4 linked regions of the Homo sapiens genome follow. The protein of the gene in region 4 interacts with the protein of the main gene of each other region in a biochemical or structural test. Each region holds a gene or a part of one and is shown on either strand. Other genes may lie near its edges. The genes, in order: GSPT2, PAN3, TOB1 and PABPC1.

What was found.
Region 1: the proteins of PABPC1 (region 4) and GSPT2 form a complex in vitro, tested with the Homo sapiens proteins (4 studies listed by BioGRID and IntAct, with this or other methods).
Region 2: the proteins of PABPC1 (region 4) and PAN3 form a complex in vitro, tested with the Homo sapiens proteins (4 studies listed by BioGRID and IntAct, with this or other methods).
Region 3: the proteins of PABPC1 (region 4) and TOB1 form a complex in vitro, tested with the Homo sapiens proteins (2 studies listed by BioGRID and IntAct, with this or other methods).

The regions. Positions count from the first base shown.
Region 1 is NC_000023.11:51,738,908-51,746,458, reverse strand, and holds GSPT2 (eukaryotic peptide chain release factor GTP-binding subunit ERF3B), read right to left. Parts: upstream 3,018-7,551; 5' UTR 2,833-3,017; coding exon 946-2,832; 3' UTR 227-945; downstream 1-226. UniProt on the Homo sapiens protein: GTPase component of the eRF1-eRF3-GTP ternary complex, a ternary complex that mediates translation termination in response to the termination codons UAA, UAG and UGA.
Region 2 is NC_000013.11:28,134,107-28,141,588, forward strand, and holds the start of PAN3 (PAN2-PAN3 deadenylation complex subunit PAN3), read left to right. Parts: upstream 1-4,438; 5' UTR 4,439-4,551; coding exon 4,552-4,981; exon of another isoform or gene 4,982-5,068; intron 5,069-7,482. UniProt on the Homo sapiens protein: Regulatory subunit of the poly(A)-nuclease (PAN) deadenylation complex, one of two cytoplasmic mRNA deadenylases involved in general and miRNA-mediated mRNA turnover.
Region 3 is NC_000017.11:50,863,355-50,870,430, reverse strand, and holds the start of TOB1 (protein Tob1), read left to right. Parts: upstream 1-4,076; 5' UTR 4,077-4,373; intron 4,374-6,267; 5' UTR 6,268-6,413; coding exon 6,414-7,076. UniProt on the Homo sapiens protein: Anti-proliferative protein; the function is mediated by association with deadenylase subunits of the CCR4-NOT complex. Mediates CPEB3-accelerated mRNA deadenylation by binding to CPEB3 and recruiting CNOT7 which leads to target mRNA deadenylation and decay.
Region 4 is NC_000008.11:100,702,378-100,705,098, reverse strand, and holds the end of PABPC1 (polyadenylate-binding protein 1), read left to right. Parts: intron 1-42; coding exon 43-173; intron 174-708; coding exon 709-801; 3' UTR 802-802; exon of another isoform or gene 803-1,739; 3' UTR 1,740-2,183; downstream 2,184-2,721. UniProt on the Homo sapiens protein: Binds the poly(A) tail of mRNA, including that of its own transcript, and regulates processes of mRNA metabolism such as pre-mRNA splicing and mRNA stability.

The sequences.
Region 1 (7,551 bases), on a different chromosome or scaffold from region 4:
CAATGTCATAACTAAACAACATTGAACAAGGTCATAACAACATTGAACAATGTCATAACAACATTGAACAATGTCATAACAACATTGAACAATGTCATACATTGTGCATTGTTGTACGATGTACACCTGCTGTACATTGTTTTGCTTAATGTTGTAGTCTTCAAGAACCTATGGATAATGTTACATGAACTACTGCTATACAAATAAAGACGGCCTGAGCCTTTCATTTTCAAATCACAAGTGGGGAAGCAGAAGAGCTCCTTTATTGACTGGACTTGGACAGAGAAAACAAAGCCCACTGGGAAGAGCCTTAACATACGTTTTTTTCTCAAAATTAAAATTATTCCTTTAATACACACTTATGCATTGTTTGTAAATTCCTCACTTAAAACAGTAAGTGGTGAAGAGTTTTTAAGTTTTTAAGTGATAGAACATATTCAACTATTTGAGAAAGTAATAAAGCTAATTGAATAGCATTACATAATGACATTTAAACATTATTCAAAAGCATTTCAAATAACCGAAGAGTTTCAAATGGAGTATTTTATTCACATGTTAGTTATCATTTTAACACACACACAAACACTGACACACTCTGGTTTGCGTGGAACAAGGGTGGTCTAAATATCCTAAAAGAAAATGAAAAATTAAAGTACATTAATTTTTCATTACTGTAGGCAATTACGTCCACATCACTTACAAAGCTATTACTGATATTGTCCAAGGAAGCAGAGTGGTACAGAGGAAGGAAACTTGAGGGTAAATTCATCAGTGACATAACAGATCTCAACATGAGAAAGCTGACAAAACATGAATTTTTGCTGTGAAATTTCTCTTTGCAAAATATGAAGAAAAGTCAATCAATGGGCAGTAAATAAGAGTAGGTGGTGAACTTTTGCTGTCAATTCTCCTCACAGTATCTTGCAGAGGCATCAAGAAAATTGCTTAGTCCTTCTCTGGGACCAATTTCAGAACTTTTCCAATTGCAATGGTCTTACCCTCATCTCTTAAAGTAAAACGACCCATCTGAGGAAAATCTTTGAACGTCTCGAGGCAGATGGTTCCTGCTGTCCTTAAACGAGCAATGCATACTTGATCTTGTTTCACGAAGCGGGGTCGTGTCTTACTTTTTTCTCCTGATTTTTTGTCTACCAAGGAGATTAACGCTGTTATCTCAACTTCCTCAATACAAGTATGAATGTGCAGCACCGCATTATAACCTGGGCAGATGATGGATTTGTGCTCAATAATCACTATCTGAACATCAAACGTGCGTCCAGAATGGCAGAGGTTACTAGGATCACAAAGTATGAATCCTGGAAGAATCTCTTCTTCTTCAATTCCCTTCAGTCTGATTTTGAGGTTTTCACCTGGGGCTACAAAATCAGTTTCAGTATCATCAGAAAGTATTCCAAGAACTTCTACATTGTGCTTGTTTGGCATCATCACGAGCTGCTGGCCTTTAAAAATGGACCCGGATTCCAGCTTTCCCAGGACCACAGTGCCCATATCTTTGTACTTATCCACAATTGGCAGTCTTATTGGTCCATCAATTGATCTGTTGAAGTTTGGCAAGTTATCCAAATACGGAATAAATGGTAATCCAGTGTACCAAGGGCAGAAATCTGACTGCTCTTTAATATTTGCTCCGGTCAGTCCTGAGCAGGGCATAAAGTGAATGTCCTTTTTTGGACTGAAGCCTACTTTTTTCAAAAAGGGCACCAGTTTTTCTTTACATTCTTCATATCTCTCGATGCTCCAATTTACTGTGGGATCATCCATCTTATTAATAAGCACTATTAAATGTTTTACCCCTGCCGTTTTTGCCAACATCGCATGTTCTCTTGTCTGTCCACCTTTTTCAAATCCAGTTTCAAACTCTCCTTTCCTGGCAGAGATGACCAGCACAGCCAAATCAGCTTGAGAAGCACCACCAATCATATTTGGGACAAAACTCTTGTGGCCAGGGGCATCTAAAATTGTGAAATGTTTCCTTTCTGTTTCAAAATAGGCACGACCCACTTCGACTGTTTTACCCTTGTCTCGTTCCTCCTGATTTGTATCTAAGGCCCAGGACAAATACCAGGTTTCTCTGTTTTTTTCCTTAGCTTCTCTTTCATATTTCTCCAGTGTTCTTTTGTCAACCATTCCAGTCAAAAACATTATCTGTCCTCCGATGGTTGACTTGCCAGCGTCTACATGGCCAATGAATACTACATTTACGTGTTCTTTCTTAGGTGCACCTGAGGGTACGATCACAGATTTGGATTTTCTTATTTCCTCTTTTTCCTCCATCATTTCCTGGCCACTTTCTTCTGGGGGCCCTGAATCTCCCGAGGAACCACCCCCAGGCTCGGCTTCACTTACTTCTTTACTGTGCTCCCATGATTCTTCTAGGGCCATTTCCACCTCTCCATTTTCTACAACAGGTTCTGAAAGTTCCATGGTAACGGCTGAATTGGAACCTTCAAGCGACACTAACGGTTCCTCTCGGGAAGGTTCCACAGGTGCCCCCCGTCCCATCCTTTTACCTTGAGGGTATCCCGCGCCGGTGCAGGTTTCATCGTTGCTGCCGGAGCCGGCCGGGAGGGTGGGCGGCTGAGTCGGGCCCCGCAGGAAGGACGGCACGAACTCCGCGGCGTGTACGTTAGGCACGAAGGGCTTGGCGTTGACGTTGAGCTTACGGCTGAAAGCCGAGCTGAGGGGCTCGCGCTGGGCCTCGGCCACCGCAGAGGAGACTCCATCCCCGCTCGGGGCCGACCCCGGGGATTCCATGTCCACCTGGTCCCAGCAATCGGGCGCCGAGTCGCTGCTGCTGCTGCCCGAATCCATGGTCTCGGAACTTGCTGTGTGGCAGTGAGGGAGCGGGCTCAACAGGCCAGAAGAGCGGGCTCCGCCGGCGGGGTTAAGGCAGCAAGAGCGAAGGGCCAAGGGGTAGCGACACGAACCTTAGCTGCACCGCGGAGGCAGCTAAGCGCCGATGCTGCATTCGCAACTGCGGCGGCAGCAGCAGATATGGCGGCTCAACACTCTCCTCTTGTGTGTGAGCGGATCTCCTCCCCCAAACCCCAACCACTTCCGACTCCTCCACCCCCGACCCAACGCCGGGCGTGGATTGACCCCTCGCTGCTATCCGTACGCTTGGCTTCCTTACTTCTTCTTAGCCACGGGCTAAGTCCAAAAGTATTATTTTTTAAAACGAAAATTTCCATTCACTTTTTTGTTCACACAGTCTGGCAGAGCAATTTGACCACAATCTGATGATTAAACCTAGACAGGAACACATGGTATACAATTCTACCAAAAGATTCAAGTAAAAGTGATCATTTCTATTGAACAAATGGGAGGCAAGATAAGGGTTAACTATACAGAAATTCAGAAACCCAGCAACTGAAGGGAGAGGCAAGGAATGGGTAGGGAGGGACTCATGAAATATATGAGTCTGTAGCCGAACTTAGGAAATGCAACTTAAGATCACTCATTAATTTGAAATCCACAGGCCTTTTGATTTTCCCTTTCCAGTGGGCCCCCATAAGCCTGTAACTTCTGCTGATGGCTTCTATAGTTTAAGGATAGGGTTACAACTTCTTTTCATGTTAAGCACCCTGGCTGTCTGAGGGGAGAGAATTTCCAAGGAGATCCTTGTTCCAGTGAAGCTTCCAGTCACTTCATATGCAGATGCCTGCACAATGGCTGGCCTGCCATTCAATGGTGGATCACGTAGACAAGCACAGGACTCAGATCACTCTTGTTTTACCAACCAACTGAATTCTGGGTTTATCTGCACTACTCCCCAGCACCTCCCTAGTACATCCTGCATCCACAGGCCTCGGGTTTTCCTGCTTCATTCCGGGGGGCCTGGAATCCTACTCACTGCACTGGCTTTGCTCTAAGAAACAATCAGTGTCATGTTGAACCCCTCTACAGTTTATGGTAATGAGACAGGGCTGTAGGTGTCAGCCTAATTAAACCAATTAAGACTTCTGAGATGAACAAAGACCTTAAGACCCTAATCAAAAGAATCTCACTCTCAGAAAGTGTTAACAGTTGAGTCAAAGCCTCAGCGACCTTGTTTGTAAATTAATTTAGTGCAAACTGACATAGAAAATACAAACTTATTCTCTGAATCTGTTTTTAGTCTTCATGTACTCAAATCTGTCACCTTTTGCTTTTATGAATTCAGGTTTTGTGACATACCTAGAAAGACTATTCAGTCCAAACAATCTGCTTAGTACAAGATGGTGTCACATAGATGGATTTATTTTTTTATTTTGAGACAAAGTTTCACTTTTGTTGCCCAGGCTGGAGTGCAGTGGCATGATCTCAGCTCACTGCAACTTCTGCCTCCTGGGTTCAAGCAATTCTCCTGCCTCAGCTTCCTGAGTAGCTGGGATTACAGGCGTCCGCCACCAAGCTCAGCTAATTTTTCTTAATATATATTTTTAGTAGAGACAGGGTTTCACCATGTTGGCCAGACTGGTCTTGAACTCCTGACCTCAGGTGATCCACCTGCCTCGGCCTCCCAAAGTGCTGGGATTACAGGCATGAGCCACCACGCCTGGCCTCATAGTTGGATATTTAAATCCAACAACAAAGCAAAATATTATAAAACCAAGTACCTGATTATAACTTGAGAATTGTGTTCTCCAGACTTTAGGGGTAGGAAAAAAGACAGACTTGGACCCTTGATGTTTTCACTCTGGGGCTGCCACTATTATACTAGCTCTGTACTGTTTCCACACCTTCATTCTTTTTGCCTCCGGTTATGGATTAATTATTTACAGTGACATAAAGAGAATGTGCACACCTATTCACAATAAACAGGAAGAACTGAGAGGTAGAATGTGCAGAGAGACCCTCCACACAAGTGCTGGAGCCTTCTTGGACATTGTGTGAACCTAGAATGGACATTTCTGGGAGAACCTGTCAAGGTTTTGGCAGCCGTGTTCACATAAGGTAATTCATGCAAGGAAGCAGGAGACATCTGGGATTTTTCCTTCACCTGGGTCGAATGCATTGGTCATGAACATATTGGTATGACTGCTACTTAGTGATATCTCAGAGAACAGAGGATACTTCACTGTTAGAACGATAAAGGAGAAGTCAGAAATAGTCTGTGAATGTCCTCATAATCCATCATTCATGAGGTTCCAGGGGAGGCAGTTCAACGCAAGAGAGAGAAGCACTGACCAGATTGTGTCCAGAGAGATTGGCCTTGGACAAAAATCTTTTGGTTTGTGTGATGGGATGCTTGTCTCCAGTCTTTCTGCCTAAGAGTTCATCAGTAAATGAGAGAATTTTCCTCACCAAAGAGGAAAATTTAAAAAAGAGTGTAGGTGATATCCAACCATTGCTTAATTCAATCTTTTTCCTCCTTTAAAAATCTTTTTTATTGTAAAATATAGCACAAACACAGAAAGTCACATTAAAAATTATAGGTTATTGACTTATGAGAAAGGAAACACACTTGTAACAACCATCCAAGTCAAGAGAAATTTGCCAGCCAGCCCAGAAGGCTTCCTTGTGCCCTGTTCAATCACAAATGACTTCCTCCACCTCTCAATGTAACTGCTATTGTGACATTTATGGTAATAACCTATACGATTTTCCGTATAGTTTTATTACACAAATGTGTACACTCAGACACTACAGTTCAATTTGGCCTGCTTTTTTGATATTTCTTTTAAGTCTTTTTTATCTCTGGATACCCAACCTATCTTCCCCTTTTTCATGTCATTTATTTATTGAGGAAAGTGGATGATGTGACTGGTAGAGAGGTTTTTTTGTTTGTTTTTTTGTTTTTTTACATTCTCAGCTTTGCTGACTGTATGTCTATGGTAGAGTTTAGAATATTCCTTTGTTCTCTGTATTTCCTGTTTATCAATAATTAAATCTATGAGCTTGATCAGATTCAGGTGCAATTTTTTAACAAGAATACTTCAAGGGAATTTTGATTATTTCCATCAAGAGGCACATGAGGTCGGGTTGTGACTCTTTTTACAGTTAGCCACAATTATTGATACTTGTTTAGAGACATATCATTAGAGGTTGCAAAATTGTGATATTGCACTTCTGTCATTCTTTCTGTTTTTATTAACTGGAGTGCTGTTCCAAAAAATTTACCTTCAACAGTTTTGTTACTTTCAGATATAGATTGCAAAGGAAATGCAGGAAAAGTGCTTGATTCTTTCGTGTTATTTAGGAGCTTTAAAAAATAATGAGTTGGTTCCCTAGAATCCTACACACATGACAAATAAGGATTTTAAAAGGGATAATTGTGAATTATTGGATTTACATATATTTGAGGCATTTTGATAAATTTTGCTTACTATACTTATTGATGATCATTTGCCAGTGCCTCTTCTGGTTGAGTTCTGAACACTTTTGAGACTATGCTAGTAGTCCTTGATGGTTTATTTATTATATGGTTTGACAAGATGTACCAGACCAATTATACAAATGTTTGCCAAACCAGGAATACTGGTTCTCAATGATAACATGGAAAGATAGATAGAATTAGAAAATAAAATAATTACTCATTTGATTTATCCCACCTACACATATAGTTGTCTCAGTACCACCACCATCAATATGATTTAAAATAAACAGATTTTTTCTTTGCATAAATGCTCTCTCTATTCTCTGCCTGTATTTCATAGTTGAATTGTATCTATCTGATAGTCAATTTTATTGAGTGCTTCCTAAGCGTAGATCATATTTCAATTATTTTATATGGATTCTCTCATTTAATTTTCCCTATCATCCTTTGAAGAAGGTAATCTTATCACTGTTTTACAGATAAGAAAATAACATTCAGAGAGGCCAGGGATTACTCAACGTCACATAGCTAGTAAATAGCGGACTTGGAGTTCAAACACAGACAATATGATTCTAAGACCACACTGGCTTGTATCATCTATTATATATATATATAAAGAAAGGAATAGGGAGATTTGGCAGAGTTAAATCACAAATAGAGGAAGAAGGTTAAATCTTAGATTATCTGGAAAGAATGGAAATATAATAAATTTAAGAGAGAAAGGATAATTCACTGTAGTTCTTTCATGAGGATTTGTGTTTCTTTCCTGAAGTAGGAGACTGGAAATTGTGAAGGAAGACTAAAATAAGAAAAATGATGAATAGGGGAAGATTTATAATAGGCCCTTATGGTATGGGGGAGGTGGCTGATTTGGGAGTAATAAAATTATTTTTTAAAGAATTTAGGTAAACCAAAACAGCACTAGACTGGAGGACATAATATGTTTAGGTTTTGAGATTCCTCTCTTTCCCCATCTTACATCTAGCATCACTGAGCAACTTGGGGCACAAGCAGAGTCTTAAGTTTCATCCAGGTTTAGGTAACAGTGGTGTATGGTAGGCTGAAAGGAGGAGAACAGAAAAATATTGAGGAGCTAGTGAACATAGAGTTAAGAACACTGTGCCTTATATTGGTTCTCTTGGCGTATGTTCCAGCCCCATTCACAAATAAGCTTCTCTGTGCTGAGATGGCTAGAAAGCTTAAGCCTCCATTTCCTAGAGTTTTGCTGCTGG
Region 2 (7,482 bases), on a different chromosome or scaffold from region 4:
TGCAGTAGCACGATCTTGGCTCACTGCAACCTCTGCCTCCCAGGTTCAAGTGATTCTCGTGCCTCAGCCTCCCGAGTAGCTGGGATTATAGGCACTTGCACCAGGCACTTGCACCACCACGTCTGGCTAACTTTTGTATTTTTAGTAGAGATGGGGTTTCACCATGTTGGCCTGGCTGTTCTGGAACCCTGGCCTCAAGTGATTCGCCTACCTTGGACTCCCAAAATGCTGGGATTACAGGCGTGGGTCACTGCGCCTGGCCAAAAAATCTGTCATGTATCAGTTATTTATCACTGCCACAAATAGGAAGGTTTTTGCTTCTAGTGCACCCAAAATTTGTCAACAAGATTAAATTAAGCAGTTGCTAGTAACTTTGTATAAAATTATAGAGCTTAGTGCATAAGGAACATACTTTACAAATATGTAAGAAATGTATTTATACATATGCAGCAAATTTCATTTCTAGGACTCAAAAACAGTCAACTCTCATTTATCCACATGCAGTTTCCACTCTATCTTAAGGGATAATTTTTATTTTTTTTTGAGACAGGGTCACCTTTTTTTCACCAGGTGACACCAGGGTTGCTGTCACCTAGGCTGTCACTGCAGCCTCGACCTCCTGGCCCAAGCAATCCTCCCACCTAAGCCTCCCAAGTAGCTGTGACCACAGAATGCCACCATGCCCAGCTAAATTTTTTTGTAGAGACAGTGTTTCCCTATGTTGCCTAGGCTGGTCTCAGAACTTCTGAGCCAAGTGATTCTCCTGCCTTGACCTCCTAAAGTGTTAGGATTATAAGTGTGAGCCACATGCTTGTCCTTAAGGGAGAATTTTTAAGACTCAGGCTGCTATCACTAATATAATAATTAACCATTCAGAAAATGTGACGTTTTCCTCTCAATCTTTATTATTATTAATTTTGAGATGAAGTCTCGCTCTGTTGCCCAGGCTGGAATGCAATGGCGCAATCTCGGCTCACTGTAACCTCCGCCTCCCAGGTTCAAGCAATTCTCCTGCCTCAGCCTCCCGAGAAGCTGGGATTACAGGTGCCTGCCACCATGCCTAGCTAATTTTCTGTATTTTTGGTAGAGACGGGGTTTCACCACGTTGGTCAGGCTGGTCTCAAACTCCTTACCTCAAGTGATCCACCCACTTCCGCCTCCCAAAGTGCTAGGATTACAGGTGTGAGCCAATGCGCTTGGCCTCAATTATTAGCATTTAATAGAAATTAACATTACCCTTTAGCAATGTAGTCTCTGTTGCTGGGGAAATGCTGTTGGAGGTCAAGTATACATTTTATGAATAATTTATGGATTATTTGCAGTTTTGGATGTAATCTTCATTAACATGAAAATAACTTAGAGTTGACTACATATTTATTTTTAGTAAAGGAATACTCAACAATGAACCCTGCTTAAAAAGACAACCCTACTATAGGAATAAGTAGTTGTCTCCTAAAAAAGTGTGGAGATATGAAATGTGTGGCAAATAAGTTTATTTTTTATTTATTGACCGAGAGGGTCTCACTGCTGTGCAGGTTGGCATAAAATGGCGCCTTCAAAGCTCACTGCATCCTGGAACTCCTGAGCCCAAATGATCCTCTGCCTCAGCCTCCCCAGTAGCTAGGACTATAGGCAAGTGCCTCTACACCTGGCTAATTTTTAAATTGTTTTGTATAGACAGGGTCTTGCTAGTTTTCCCAAGAGGGTCTTGAACTCCCGGCCTCAAGTGATCCTCTTGCCTTGGCTTCCTTCCAAAGCAGTGAGGTTAGAGGTGTGAGCCACTGTGCCCTGCCATGTTGACTTTTAAAAACCCTGTAATAACTTCCAATTGTCCTCAAGAAAAAGTTCAATTCTTTTTTTTTTTTTTGAGATGGAGCCTTGCTCTGTCGCCCAGGCTAGAGTGCAGTGGTGCGATCTCACTGCAACCTCTGCCTCCCGGGTTCAAGCAATTCTTCTGTCTCAGCCTCCCGAGTAGGTGAGATTACAGGTGCCTGCTACCACACCCAGCTAATTTTTGTATTTTTAGCAGAGACGGGGGTTTCACCATGTTGGCCAGGCTGGTCTTGAACTCCTGACCTCGTGATCTGCTCGCCTCAGCCTCCCAAAGTGCTGGGATTACAGGCGTGAGCCACTGCGCCTGGCCAAAAGTTCAATTCTTTAACATGGCCCTACAAGGACTTTTGTGGACTCTGCTCCATTTTCCACTATCACTGTATTCTAACAATAAAAGCTGTTTGCCTAGAATGCTCTTTGACTATACACTGACTACCACTAGCAGCAATACTACTTTTTTTTCGAGATGGAGTCTCGCTCTGTCGCCCAGGCTGGCGTGCAATGACGAGATCTCGGCTCACTGCAACCTCTGCTTCCCAGGTTCAAGTGATTCTTATGTCTCAGCCTCCCCAGTAGCTGGGATCACAGGCGCTCGCCACCACGCCCAGTAATTTTTTTGTATTTTTGTAGAGACGGTGTTTTACCAGGTTGGCCAGACTGGTCTCGAACTCCTGATCTCAGGTGATCCACCCGCCTTGGCCTCCCAAAGTGCTGGGATTACAGGCGTGAGCCACTGCGCCTGGCCAATACTATTAATAATAGTTACAACCTACCGAATTCTTATTAGGCATGGGACAGTTTATATACATTATTAGTTATACTTTATGAAGTAGGTACTATTCTTAATCCAGGTGTACAGACAAGGCACAGAGAAATGAAGCAATTAACTGAGAGGAACACAGCTATTAAAGTGTAGGCACTTTAATCTGTTTCAATCCAGATCTGTCTGAATTCAATGATGTTCCCAAACTTGGAACATGAAAATATCAACTTTCTCCAAGAAGTCTGACATGTTTAATATCCTCTAATAGCAAATGTGATAAGGTTAGCACTTAAGACACTGGTTTACAACGGACCTGTGTACTTGATGCCTCCCCAACCGGAAGATAAGCCATCTGAACTCACTTAAGGCGGCATGTTCACTTTTGCTTCCCCAGCTCCACAGTTAAGTGTACCACAGTTTCTGGTACACGTAATGCGTGTTAATAAAGATTTGTTGAATAATCAAATAAGCGAAACTGCTTTTAAACAGAAAGCCATAATACAATGTTATTACCTTCGAATTTGGCTAGAGAACATCACCAAGCTTACCAGTTTGTGATCTAGACTCCACTTTTCCCCATTTTTTTCAGTGTGCTACTTTTGCTTATATCCATTCTTCTGTGACTTTGTTTGCCACAATTCCTTAAATACTTCCACCCCTCCTTTTCATAACAGCGATCTGCCGTTTGTGAACCTCTTTTACAGAGAAAAACTAGAATGTTACTTTTCCTTTCATAGCAATTCTTTAAAATTTCTGAAAGCCTTTAAAAGGGTATTAGCGCAAACATCAGAGATCGCTGAGGTTAAAACTATCTTTTAAAAATGAATTTCACCGTCTCAAAAAAAATAAAAATGAATTTCAAATCAAGGCTAGGCTGATTGGAGAAAAGCAACCTAGTATATTTATAAAGGTCTTCCAGTGCTGTCTAAGCAGTGTTGTCCCAGGTGGCATCCTATTTTTCATAATTTACCGAAGGCCCTTGGTAATATAAATACAGAGAATAACAGGTGCTGCACTGAGCAGGGGGTCTGTCTAAATCAACCTTTTTGGCTCCATTTTTTGACAAAGGGCCAAGAGGTTAGCGTAATCGGTCCAGTAGTTCTCATTACCTTCGAGGGGAAGGGGAAAGAGGAGAGGGGCGAAGAAAGGAAACGGGGAGAGGAAGTGTGGCAAATAGAAGATATTCTTCAGGTAGAGCCAGGGCTCGGGCCGCGTCCCCAGGTGGCCCCTCCAAACGACCGTTTACCTTGTCAATTTTCTCTTTTCAATGAAAAAAAAAAAAAAGACATCTGGCTTTTTAAGTAAGAGAATATACAAATAAGGAAGGTATCAGGTCTCGTGAGAATTCGGCGCCAGATCCGCGTCCGGAACCCCACCGAGAGCCGCCGGTCCAACCGCCGATAGCTCGCGGATGCCCCCGGGGGCCCGACGCCGGCCAGGCTTCCCCTAGCGCTCCCGCTACCCATAAGCCCTCGCGTCTCAGCGCGCACGCGCAGCGGCGACGGCCGTCTCAGGAAGAGGAAAATGGAATAAACAACTCGGAGGAACCAGAGCGCGAGAGAGCGAGTGGAGGCAGAATTTAAAAATAAACCGGCCCCTCCGCCTTCCCCACCCGCTTGCCGCTGCCGCTCCCTCTTCCCCTGCCCGCGCCCTCGAAGTCCCCGTCTGGGCCCGCGCGCTCACCCCGTCGTCCCGCGCGGCCCCTTTAAGAAAAGAGAACGAGAGAGTGAGTGAGAGAATCCCAACTCTCCCCCTACCCTCCCTCCTTCTACCCCCTCCTCCCTCCCCTCTCCCCTCCCCCTTCTCCCCGGGCGGCTCCGGCTCCCGCAGCGGGACAGACCCACCCGCCCAGGCTTTTATCCGGCACCGGCAGCGTCTTCCTTTCCTCCCCCGTCTATGGTGGTGGCGGCGGCGGCTCCTCGGGCGGCGGCGGAAGACGAGGCTGCGGCGTTGCCATGAACAGTGGCGGCGGCCTCCCGCCCCCCTCGGCCGCCGCCTCCCCTTCCTCCTCCTCGCTGGCGGCGGCGGTGGCGGTGGTGGCCCCGCCGGGGGTCGGGGGTGTCCCCGGCGGGGCGGCGGTAGGAGTGAAGCTGAAGTACTGCCGCTACTACGCTAAGGATAAGACTTGCTTCTACGGGGAGGAGTGTCAGTTCCTGCATGAGGACCCTGCCGCCGGGGCTGCCCCGGGCCTCGGCCTCCATAGCAACAGCGTCCCCCTGGCTCTGGCTGGTGCACCCGTGGCCGGCTTTCCGCCGGGAGCCGTCGCGGGCGGGGGAGCTGGGCCGCCCCCCGGGCCCAAGAAGCCGGACCTGGGGGACCCGGGGACCGGAGCCGCAGCCGGCGGAGGAGGCAGTAGCGGGGGACTCGATGGACCGCGGCTGGCAAGTGAGTGTTTTTCGGGCGGGGCGGGCCGCGGCGGCGGAGGGCAGGCCTGGGCCGGATGAGGCCCTGCTGCCGACGGGAGCTGAGCACGGCCCGCGGGCTCCCCCCCTCACCTCCCAAGGCGGTCTGAGAGGCCTAGGCCGGGCCTGAGCCCTCCTTCCTTCTTCCTGCTTCCCCTCCCCACTGCCTTCGGCAAGTCGGAGAGCGCGGGGAGGTTGGGTTCCCGGGAACGTGGGTGGGAGGACTGGGGTGATGTGAAGGGGGGGCGGGGAGGAAGGGGGATGGGCTGTGGCGTGCGGAGTGTGAGAAAGGGGGTGTCGTTTCCGGGGGGTGTGGAAAGGGGCTGGGTTTGCAGGCACATGTGTTTTGCGTGTCCTTGTGGAGTGGCGTCTGCAGAGTGTTGAGGTTCCCTAGTGGGGAGGGGTGTGTTTGTGTGTGTGTGTGTGTGTGTGTGTGTGTGTGTGTGTAGGGGGCGGGAGGTGAGGGGCGGGCTTAAGGCTTCGTGGAGTAGGTTGAAAGAACGGAAAAAGTTTGTAGAAGGCTTGCGGGAGAAAGGTTTTGCAGGCAGGAAATGCTTTCTAAGGATTAGGAGGGAGCGGACTGTCGCGTTCAAAGTGTGCTCAGGTTTAATCGAGAGTTTAGAGTAGGGATTTCACAAAGACGCATTTCATCTGAGTTTCCCTGAAAGCTAGAATAAGTTTGCTGGTGTCAGCTGGGATCCTGTCTTCTATAGCTTTGTATCAAGCAAACTCAGCATTGTGTCTTGAATGCATGTCATGTGCAGCCTGCGTTTATGTGCGACTGAGCACTTGGGTGGGGACATCTTAAGGCTGTTTATATTTCTTTTTCATGTGTTGTTGTTGTTGTTGTTGTTGTTGTTTTGGAGAGAGTCTCGCCCTGTCGCTCAGGCTGGAGTGCAGTTGCGCGATCTCAGCTCACTGCAACCTCCGCCTCCCGAGTTCAAGCGATTCTGTTGCCTCTGCCTACGGAGTAGCTGGGACTACAGGCGCGCGCCACCACGGCCAGATAATTTTTTGTAGTTTTAGTTGAGATAGTAGTCTCGTTGTGTTGGCCAGGCTGGTCTCAAACTGCTGGCCTCAAGTGATCTGTCCTCCTCAGCCTCTCAGTGTGTTGTTATCTATTGACCTGAAGCTTGTTAGTTGTTAGTGGAGTTTACAATTGAATGTGAGCGTAATCTGTTAGAGAATGTTGCCTTTACGAATAGAGCCGGTGCCAGATGTCCCTGTTTTGTTTCTTAGTATATTGAGCGTTTCTAAACCAAATAGGAGTCCTACTTTCTTGGGAATTCTGGAGAACTAGATCTTAAAATAATCTGATAGGCAGTTCAATTTGTACATGAGAACATTTTGTCTTTTTCTTAAACACTGTTAATGAACCTGATAGGAAGTTTTAGCATTTAATTGGTCTATGAGGATTATTTAATATCTTCCCCGGGGTTTTGCTTTCTTGCTTTTTCTTTCGAGACGGGATCTTCCTATGTTGCCCAAGCTGGCCTGGAACTCCTGGGCTCAAGCGATCTTCCTGCCTGGGCCTCCCAAAGTGCTGGGATTACAGGAGTGAGGCACCATGCTGGGCCAAGTGTTGTTCTGTTCTGTTCTTTTCTCCTTTCTCTCTTCTTTCTTTTTCTTTTATAGAAGTGTTTCATTTGTTGTGATGGGCTTGACTTTAATGAAGATATATTTGCTAAGGCTGATAATGCTAAGAAAATTAATTTTGTAAATTCAGATGTTTTGTAAAACAAATGGTTACTTATGGGTGGAATTTTATCACTTTCGAGCATCAACTTTGCATTTTCAGGTTAAAGTTTTGCTGGATGTGTGAGTCGTGACTCAGTAGTAATGTTTGATTAGTAACCAATGACACTGAACAATAGTTTTCTTACTGACAGAAAGAGACACTTTTTTTTTTTTTTTTTTTGAGACGGAGGCTTGCTTGTCGTCCAGGCTGAAGTGCAGTGGTGCGATCTCGGCTCACAGCAACCTCCACCTCCCAGGTTCAAGCAATTCTCCTGCCTCAGCCTCCCAAGTAGCTGGGTTTTACAGGCATGCGCCACCACGACCGGCTTATTTTTGTATTTTTAGTAGAGACGGGGTTTCGCCATGTTGGCCAGGTGGGTCTCGAACTCCTGACCTCAGGTGATCGTCCCGCCTCGGCCTCCCAAAGTGCTGGGATTACAGGTGTGAGCCACTGTGCTGGCCAGAAAGAGGCACTTTTTAAAATGCTGGTGTTAGACTTCATAGGTGATCTTTCTAGGATTCTCTTTTTAAAAAAAACTTTTAAAGTTTTATTTATCTATTAATCTTATTCCTGACAGACAGCTCTGACGATCATTCTAGGATTTTCTTTTTCTTTTTTTCTTTTTTTTTTTTTTTTTTTTTTGAGACGGAGTTTCACTCTTGTTTACGAGGCTGGAGTGCAATCTAGTGATCTCGGCTCACCGCAACCTCTGCCTCCCGGGTTCAAGAGATTCTCCTGCCTCAGAC
Region 3 (7,076 bases), on a different chromosome or scaffold from region 4:
TGTAGTCCCAGCTACTTGGGAGGCTGAGGCAGGAGAATCACTTGAACCCGGAAGGCAGAGGTTGCAGTGAGCCAAGACTGTGCCACTGCACTCCAGCCTGGCGACAGAGTGAGACTCTGTCTCAAAAAAAAAAAAAAAAAAAAAAAAGAAGTAAAATGAGTATTAATAATTATACACCATGTGATAGCTATTCTCCTGTAACCCTTTCTCAATTTACAAGGAAGCATATTAAGAATTAGAAAACTTAGGATGTCTCTATCTCAGAAATCAAGGTGTTGCATGTGTGTGTTCTTGTGTGGATTAGGTAATAATTCAAGGCACTTTCAAGAACTGTATTTTATGAAGATATTGGAAGTTATTTTTTACCAAACGATTACCTTTATTGTAAGGGCCCACTGGGAATTGTGTAGAATGTAGGGATGTGAAAGGCAAAGGCTGTAGTTTCTAGTGACTGTTATTTGCTCAGAGAGAGGAATACCTCTTGATTGTGATACACTTGGAGCCTAATATCAAATTCTTTTTTCCTCCATAAGTCTAATTCCCTGCACAATTAGCAGTTAGCCCTCCACTCCCCTGCACAATTCCAAAGTAAATGTTAGATAATAATAAGCCATATGCAGAACTTGGATAAAGAACATTTTATACCTCGTGACTGGCAATGTTCAGAGATGTGAATCAGTTTTCCCTTTTATTTGCAATCCATATATATGTATTTTTTTTCTTTTTTGAAACGAAGTTTTGCTCCTGTTGCCTAGGCTGGAGTGCAATGGCGCGATCCCAGCTCACCGCAACCTCCGCCTCCCGGGTTCAAGTGATTCTCCTGCCTCAGCCTCCCGAGTAGCTGGGATTACAGGCATGCGCCACCATGCCAGGCTAATTTTGTATTTTTAGTAGAGACAGGGTTTCTCCATGTTGGTCAAGCTGATCTCGAGCTCCCGACCTCAGATGATCCACCCACCTTGGCCTCCCAAAGTACTGGGATTACAGGCGAGAGCCACCGCGCCCTGACTTGCAATCTGTATTTGAAGAACAGCTGCAGTATATATGTTAGGAACATTGAGTTTTAAGGGCGGAATATTTTATTTATTTATTTTTTTGAGAGAGAGTCTCGCTCTGTCGGCCAGCAGGAGTGCAGTGGCACGATCGCGGCGCACTGCAACCTCCATCTCCCAGGCTCAAGCAATTCTCCTGCCTCAGCCTCCCAAGTAGCTGGGATTACAGGCGTGTGCCACTACACCCGGCTAATTTTTGTATTTTCAGTAGAGACGGGGTTTCACCGTGTTGGCCAGGCTGGTCTCAAATTCCTGAGCTCAGGTAATCTGCCTGCCTCAGCCTCCCAAAGTGCTGGGATTACAGGCGTAAGCCACTGCTCCCAGCCAAGTGTGGAATTTTTTTTTAATTGAAGGAGACATTAGATATGATCTAATTCAACCCTTTTTATAGGTGAGAAAACTAAAAGTTTATTGAAACTGGTGTGAAACTCAGACCTCCCAGTACCCACCCTTCATTGCTTTTTCCAGTATGCCATGGGGCCTCCGTGTGTGTTGTTTGTGTGGTGTGTGTGTGTGTGTTTATATTTGGTCAGACATCTTCTTACACTCCTAGGCCAAGCAGCAATAACTCATAAATTTTTGACATCTACATTTCTGACTTAAAAATGCTTTTAATGCTACTGATATTTAATCAGTACCTATCAGATGACTGCTCTCATATTTCAAATCTGGAATTACAGATTGAAGACATTCAGAAAAGAGAACTTGTCCCTTCTCTTTAGAGAATTATTGAAAAGTACAGATAAGTTTGACAAAATTACAATTCATCTATCTTTAGACATTTTAGTCTCAGCCATGCCTAATATGCCCCCCCAATATAAAATTACTAATCAAGACACATGGTCCCGCAGTTCTAGATGTTTGGTACAGTACCATTATTTGCCTAATGGTAAAAGAAGTTGTGCTTCTAGAACACGTGAAAAATGAAGTGTTTCTTTTGGTAAGGCATTCCAAGGATATCCTGTCTAGTTTCTTGAAATTTCTGTGCTTAATTAGAAAACTAAAAATAACTCACTTTTATTACAGATGGACTTGTCATTACAGAAAACCAAAAACAAACAAATAAAAAAAGAAAACTGAACAAATCATTTATATTTGACGCTTTGATGACATTTCAATGCAGAGGAAGGGACATTTTAATTTAAATGCTTTCACAGTTTTGCCATACTTTCACATTTCAATTCCACTCCTGTTTGCAACTAAAAAACCCAAACACTCAAAAAAAAAAAAAAATCACATTAATCAGAATTTAAGGAGTCACTTAGTAAAACTATGTTTTAGGAATCTGTACAATAAACATGAAATCAGTCACCTGACCACTCCCCACCCTCAGCCCATTCCACAAACCCATCTTCCCACCCCTTCTCCTACGCATTGAGCCTTCAGAAATACCCTTTCTCAGTGCGGTTCCTTCTAAAAAGGAGAGGCGGGAGAGTCAGGGTGGAGAAGGCGGCTCCAACCAGATTTTGCGTCCACAAAGCCAAAAGCTTCTAGGCCTGGCATGTACGGCGGGTTTGTGCCCGAGGAGCACAGCTGGTCTACACGGGCCCGCCCCGTAGACACCCTACTCCTCGGTGAGCTGCGGTTTAACTTCCTTATAGCAGGTTGAGAGTGCAGGCCCCAACGTTTGGAGGGGAAGGCGGCGCCCCAACTGGTGTTTTTCCAGGAAGTGCTCCAAGAATGGAGAGGAGAGGGGAAAGGGGAAAGGGGAAGGCCAGGCGATGGGCGTTTCATTCATTGCTTCTTTCTCCCCGTCCCCTCCTTCGCTCCCCCCAGACTTTCCCCTTTTCCCAGTCCGAGTTTGACGTCGGTCTCCTGGATACCAGGCAGCCAATCGCCTCGTTGCGAAGGGACCAGCGCAGCCAATCAGGCGTCGTTGCTACCTGTGAGTAATATTTTTAGCTGAGAGGGACGCTCGATTCCACTCCCGATGTAATTTCGTGTATTTCTCTGGGGCAGGTTGTGAAAAAGGCACTTACCCGCCCCCCACCACGAGTCCCTCTCTTACCCCACTCCCTAGGTACCCGCACATATTTCAGCCAAGAATGATCTTAAACGCGCTTTACAAGCAGGCACCGCGTTTATTCTGTGCACCTGCGATCCAGCAAGCCCTAGAAATGCACGCATGCGTGTGTGTGTAGACATGGACACAGATACATACGCAGTTTGGCCTCGTGTCGCCACACTCTGGGCACGGCGTGGGCTGGGACATTTGGAATAAACGGATCCGAGTCGCAGCCGGGGTCGCACCGGGAGGCCTGAGGCTGCGGAAGCAGTTAAACTGCCGGCGGGGCGGGAGCTGTGGCGGCCTCCCTTCCCCACCCCCAGCCCGGCTCCACGTCTTTGGGTTCTGCAGCTGCCACTCTCTGGGTGGCGGTTGGCCTAGGCCTTGGGGTGATTAATATTCAATTAATCGGGTGCACAAGTCCCGGTCACAGTTTGCCCTTTCTCTACCCCGCCCCTGGGGTGGGCTGGAGGCCGATTTGGTAGCTATTCCACGAGCAGGATCCTCCTTGGCCGCAGACCCCCGCGGAGAGGGCACTTTCTGGGTACTCTTGCCGCTCCTCCAGCCCCGGTTCTCCTGAGCCGCTTCGCCACCAGCTTCGTCCCCCTCCCCCTCTGCCCGGCGCTCTCCGCCTAAACCGGGCGTCAGCCGCCCTACCCCACCCCTTTCTCTCTCATTGGCACGTCTGCCCCCACAGTCCCTTTCCAGACGTTCTCTTCATTCCGTCCCCAGTGCTCCGATCGTCGGTTCATTGGCCCTCCTGGAGCCCGGAGGGTGCGGCTTCCCCACCCCTGCGTCCGCCGCGCGTCCGGACAGGGGCAGGCGGGACTTGGCCAATGGCGTCGGGGGGCAGGGCAGGGGCGGAGCCGGCCGGCGGGGGACCGGGGTGCCGGGCGGGGAGCGCGGGGAATGGCTGCGCCGCCGGAGCTGTGTGACGCGGAGCGGGCGCGCGCACCCCGACGGAGGGGATGGGGGCGGGGAGGAGGCCATAAAACGAGAGGCGGGGCGCGCGCCGCGGCAGAAGGAGCGAAGCTCTGGCCCGGCGTGTAGCGGGCGCACTACGGGGACGCTGGGCCGGGCACCGGGCTGTGTGGAGAAGTGAGCGCGCTCGTCTGACCCCCGTGCCCGCCACCCCGAGCCACTAACGGCGATCTCCCAAGGCCTGCCCGAGGCCTCTGTCCTCTGTCCTCAGCCCCGCAGCGGCAACGTCTTGCACTCGGCGAGCTCGCCGCTCCCGACCCTCCCGCGCCCCCGCCCTGCCGCGCTGCTCCCCGCCCAGCCGCGGGTCTGTGGTCCAAGCCGCCCCGAAGCAGCCCGTAAGTATCTCGGGGCGCCGGGCGGGGTCGGCGAGGAGACGGGAGCCCCGGGCCCAGGCGGCGGAGGAGGGGCTGCAGCGGCGTCGAGCCCTGGGCCCTCGGGAGCTCGGGGACGGCGGGGTCGCGGCCCTGGGCGCCGAGGGGGCAGCGCCAGGACCCGAGGGGAGCGGCTCCGAGGGGCCGCCGGCGCGTCGGGCTCGTCCTGGGCAGTTGGCCGGGGACGGGCGGCCCGGGGCGAGCTGACGGGAATTGGGGGGTTGGGGTGCCCGGAGGAGCGACGAGCTCGCGGTGGAACGCTGGGGTTCGAGGGGCCGGTGGCCGCGAGGCTGAAAATGGTGCCGAGGAACCGGTGCTCCCCCAGGCTCTGGCCGGCTCCCAGGAGCCCGGGGCGGGGGCCACGGGGCGGGGAGCAGCGGGTCGGGTTACGGCGGGGGAGGGGAGCGGCTGACCCGGCGCCCCGACCTGCTCGGTGCTGGGTGCCCAGCCGGGAGAGGTTGCTCTTCCATTTCCCGGGCCTTCCTCCTCCTTCTCCGAGGAGGCTCGTACTCTCTTCCTCCTCCACCTCCACCTCCTCTTGCTGTTGCTGCTGCTGTAGCGCTTGGGCTCCGAGGGCTGTGAGCAGAAATCTAATGAGATCTAACTGGCTGTTTATGTAATTCTTCACACTCCTGCCTGTCTTAAGGCGTTGCTTTGTAACTACCTTCCACCGAGCCTGAATTTCGCTCGGCTGCACCTTCAAGCAATTGGGCTTAATCAGCTGCCTCTGCCGGCACTCAGGCTTTTGACTTGGAAAGTGTTTGTAGTTTGGGGGCAGCCAGAGATTCTTTTTCCCTTTGTCACCACGAATATGGAAAATAGAACAGACGAATTAAGACCAACTTGATTTTTAAACGTACTTTTAAATCAACTTCAGTGTGCAAATAGATCCCTTTCGCAAATATCTTCTGTTTGCCCTTGATCTTTTCTTATCCCCACCCAGTGCTGATCCAGCAAACGTTTAAAGGTCGACCTTACCATACTTGCCTCTCCGGCTGTTACCGTGAGAGGGAGGGAGGGAGAGAGGGACAGACGGAGGTTTTTTAAAATCAGACTAAAACTCAGAAACCCTGGCCTTAAACAGAATAATCAATAGTTTTAATTTGTGTCTTTGCTTTTGTTATACTTGCTGCCGAATAGGTATTTTCAGATTTAGAAAAATACACATTGAAAACAAAAGGCCCAGAGAAGCTGGATTTTATTATATTGTATGCTCTTAGTATACTTAAGGCCGAAACTATATAGAATAATTTGGTTCATAATTATTTACTAGGATGAAGTTCATTTAGTACTCAGTGTCTTTAATTTTAGCATCATGTACTATGGAAATTAAAATGATCTTCCTAACGTAACCAAATTTTTAAATGTCAGTGACAGAGCAGATTTAAACAGTATATATCCAAAGTAAACTAAAACATGGATTCACTTCTAAGTTGGTGAATAACAATAAAAATTACTACCTAAAAGTGGCATCTATATATATGGGGGTGGGGGGAGGATGCTGAGTACAATAAATATTCTTGTGAGAACTGAGGAGAGAAGAATGCATGTTCTAGAGATTTTTCTTCTTAGAACTCTATTCAGAAACAGGTTTTTAAAAGCATTATTTCATTTGTAAATCTACATTTTCCTGTGTCATTTTAAACTTTAATAAACGATTTTCTATTTTATGTTTATTTTGTGCTAGTAACAGTTTTCAGGCTTTCTGTCCTAGTAGACATTTTCTTTTTCTTTTTATCCTTAGCAGACTAACACAGGATCTTAGACATTTTGAAAGGTGAAATTACTTTGGAGGGGGGAAGGTCATGGGACTTATATTACATTTATCTTATTTGGATATGTTTGCTTTTGTTTTAAGGAACAAGATCACTCAAGGTGAAGGATAATCTACTAATACCAGCACTTTGAATGAAAATTTGTTTCTCTGCCACAAACTGAACATCTTTTTTTTTTTTTTTTTTTTTTGGTGGGGGAGTTGAAACCTAATTTTGTGGCGTAGCAGCTATGCAGCTTGAAATCCAAGTAGCACTAAATTTTATTATTTCGTATTTGTACAATAAGCTTCCCAGGAGACGTGTCAACATTTTTGGTGAAGAACTTGAAAGACTTCTTAAGAAGAAATATGAAGGGCACTGGTATCCTGAAAAGCCATACAAAGGATCGGGGTTTAGATGTATACACATAGGGGAGAAAGTGGACCCAGTGATTGAACAAGCATCCAAAGAGAGTGGTTTGGACATTGATGATGTTCGTGGCAATCTGCCACAGGATCTTAGTGTTTGGATCGACCCATTTGAGGTTTCTTACCAAATTGGTGAAAAGGGACCAGTGAAGGTGCTTTACGTGGATGATAATAATGAAAATGGATGTGAGTTGGATAAGGAGATCAAAAACAGCTTTAACCCAGAGGCCCAGGTTTTTATGCCCATAAGTGACCCAGCCTCATCAGTGTCCAGCTCTCCATCGCCTCCTTTTGGTCACTCTGCTGCTGTAAGCCCTACCTTCATGCCCCGGTCCACTCAGCCTTTAACCTTTACCACTGCCACTTTTGCTGCCACCAAGTTCGGCTCTACCAAAATGAAGAATAGTGGCCGTAGCAACAAGGTTGCACGTACTTCTCCCATCAACCTCGGCTTGAATGTGAATGACCTCTTGAAGCAGAAAGCC
Region 4 (2,721 bases):
TTTTTTTTATTGAAGGGAGTTTTTGAATGTTTCTGTTCCTAGGTGAACGGCTGTTTCCTCTTATTCAAGCCATGCACCCTACTCTTGCTGGTAAAATCACTGGCATGTTGTTGGAGATTGATAATTCAGAACTTCTTCATATGCTCGAGTCTCCAGAGTCACTCCGTTCTAAGGTGATTTAAATTTATTTACCAAGTTGCCTCTTACACAGTTATTACGTGGCTTTTTATGGGGACTTAATTGTACAGAACACTTACATCGTGTTATATATAAGCCATGTACAGTTGTAAAGTCTGCATAATAACCTGTGGCGCTATTTATCCCCATTTTATAGATAGGTAAACTGAAACAGGCTGAATAATTTGCCAAATGCTCACACAGCTCTTAAGTGGCAGAGCCTGGCTTCAAATCCCATCAGCTCCAACAGCCATACTCTCAACTGCTGCTGCTTTCTCTAGTGGAGAAAGAGAAATATTTTTCGAGTGTGGGGAGGACAAGGAAAGAGTAGTGCAGGGGAGCGATTCATAATTCTAGAATAGTGGTGTAATAGAACTCAAAATTGAATGGATATAGTTGTTTAGTGTAACAATTTATACTTTCATTTGAGGGAAGAAACTTATCTTTGTTGGGAATTGGTATGTTACCATTATGAAACTCTTTATTTCCATTCCTTTCCTGAACCAGTTTATCTGTTTTCCCCTTTTTTAGGTTGATGAAGCTGTAGCTGTACTACAAGCCCACCAAGCTAAAGAGGCTGCCCAGAAAGCAGTTAACAGTGCCACCGGTGTTCCAACTGTTTAAAGTGAGCTTTTCCCTCTGGTTTGTTGTTTTAAGCTTGTTTTCTTCATCTTTTATAAAGTTTGTTGAGCATATTTTGAAATGTACATAGCAAAAGATCATTTTACAGTTCATTTAAATGTATTGCTAATTTTTCAAGGAAAAGTGGAACTAACTATAGAGGAATTAAAGGAATTTTACCCGTTAACTGTTGGATTTTTAAAATCCCAGGACTTTCAGGTGGTGTTTTTTTTTTTTTTTTTTTTTGAGATGGAGTTTCGTTCTGTCGCCCAACCTGGAGTGCATTGACGCGATCTCGGCTCACTGCAACCTCCACCTCCCAGGTTCAAGCAATTCTCCTGCCTCGGCCTCCCGAGCAGCTGGGATTAACAGGCCCATGCCTGCCACCGTGCCCAGCTAATTTTTGTATTTTTACTAGACTTGGGGTTTTGCCATGTTGGCCAGGCTGGTCTGGAACTTCTGACCTCAAGTGATCCGCCCACCTCGGCCTCCCAAAGTCTTGAAATTACAGGCGTGAGCCACTGCGCCCTGCCAGATTTTGTATAGTAATATATATATAAAATGACCTGTCACAGGTTGGCTTTCATAGTTTTACCTTTCCTTTTTGGGTGGTGCCCTTGGGTCTCTACTACTGTCTTTCATCACTCCCAAGAAATTGAGTAGTGCAGCCAGGATCAGGACCAGGGATTGGCAAATGTTTTTTGTAAAGGGCCAGATAGGAAATATTTTGGGCTTTGAGGACTGTGTTATCTCTGAAATGATCTTGTTCCAGTGTTACCATGTCAAGACAACCATAGATAGTATGTATACAAATGAACAGGTATGGCTGTGTTCCAGTAAAACTATGGATAAAAACAACCACATTGCATTTGGCTAAGGGCTTTAATTTGCTACTGACAAGTGATAGTCCTGGTCTTAATTTGTTTTTTTAACATTTACAGATTGATCAGGGACCATGAAAAGAAACTTGTGCTTCACCGAAGAAAAATATCTAAACATCGAAAAACTTAAATATTATGGAAAAAAAACATTGCAAAATATAAAATAAATAAAAAAAGGAAAGGAAACTTTGAACCTTATGTACCGAGCAAATGCCAGGTCTAGCAAACATAATGCTAGTCCTAGATTACTTATTGATTTAAAAACAAAAAAACACAAAAAAATAGTAAAATATAAAAACAAATTAATGTTTTATAGACCCTGGGAAAAAGAATTTTCAGCAAAGTACAAAAATTTAAAGCATTCCTTTCTTTAATTTTGTAATTCTTTACTGTGGAATAGCTCAGAATGTCAGTTCTGTTTTAAGTAACAGAATTGATAACTGAGCAAGGAAACGTAATTTGGATTATAAAATTCTTGCTTTAATAAAAATTCCTTAAACAGTGCACGGATTTGCTTTTTTTCAAAGTCTTTATAATTGCCATGCATAAATAGGTAATATCTTAATGGTGCTGAGCCGACATAAGAATCTTTTATGAAAAATGTACTGTTAAGTTCAGGGGGTCTATTGGTTTTATGTAAAAGGCACAAGACAATTCCTGTAGTGCATTTTATGAGTTAAGGTTTCCATACGGATTATTGAAACAATTTGTTACATGTATTTGTTACATGATCTTAATATTTCATGTACAAGACTGACACCCATCCACTTTTGAAGATAAGCCAGTTTATGGGGTTTTTTTTTTTGCGGGTAGAGGTTGGGTCTCCCTATTTTGTCCAGGCTGGTCTCGAATTCCTGGGCTCAAGCATAAGCATAAGGCTTATTCCTGCATAAGCCACCATGCCTGGCCTGCCAGTTGATGATTATATTGAGGTTTCTAGGCTATGAGATTATTAGCTTAAACCCTTACATGATATAAAACAATGATAGCTACTCTTGAAGAGGATGTAGATAAGATAGGCTTTGGTATGATTTTAATATTA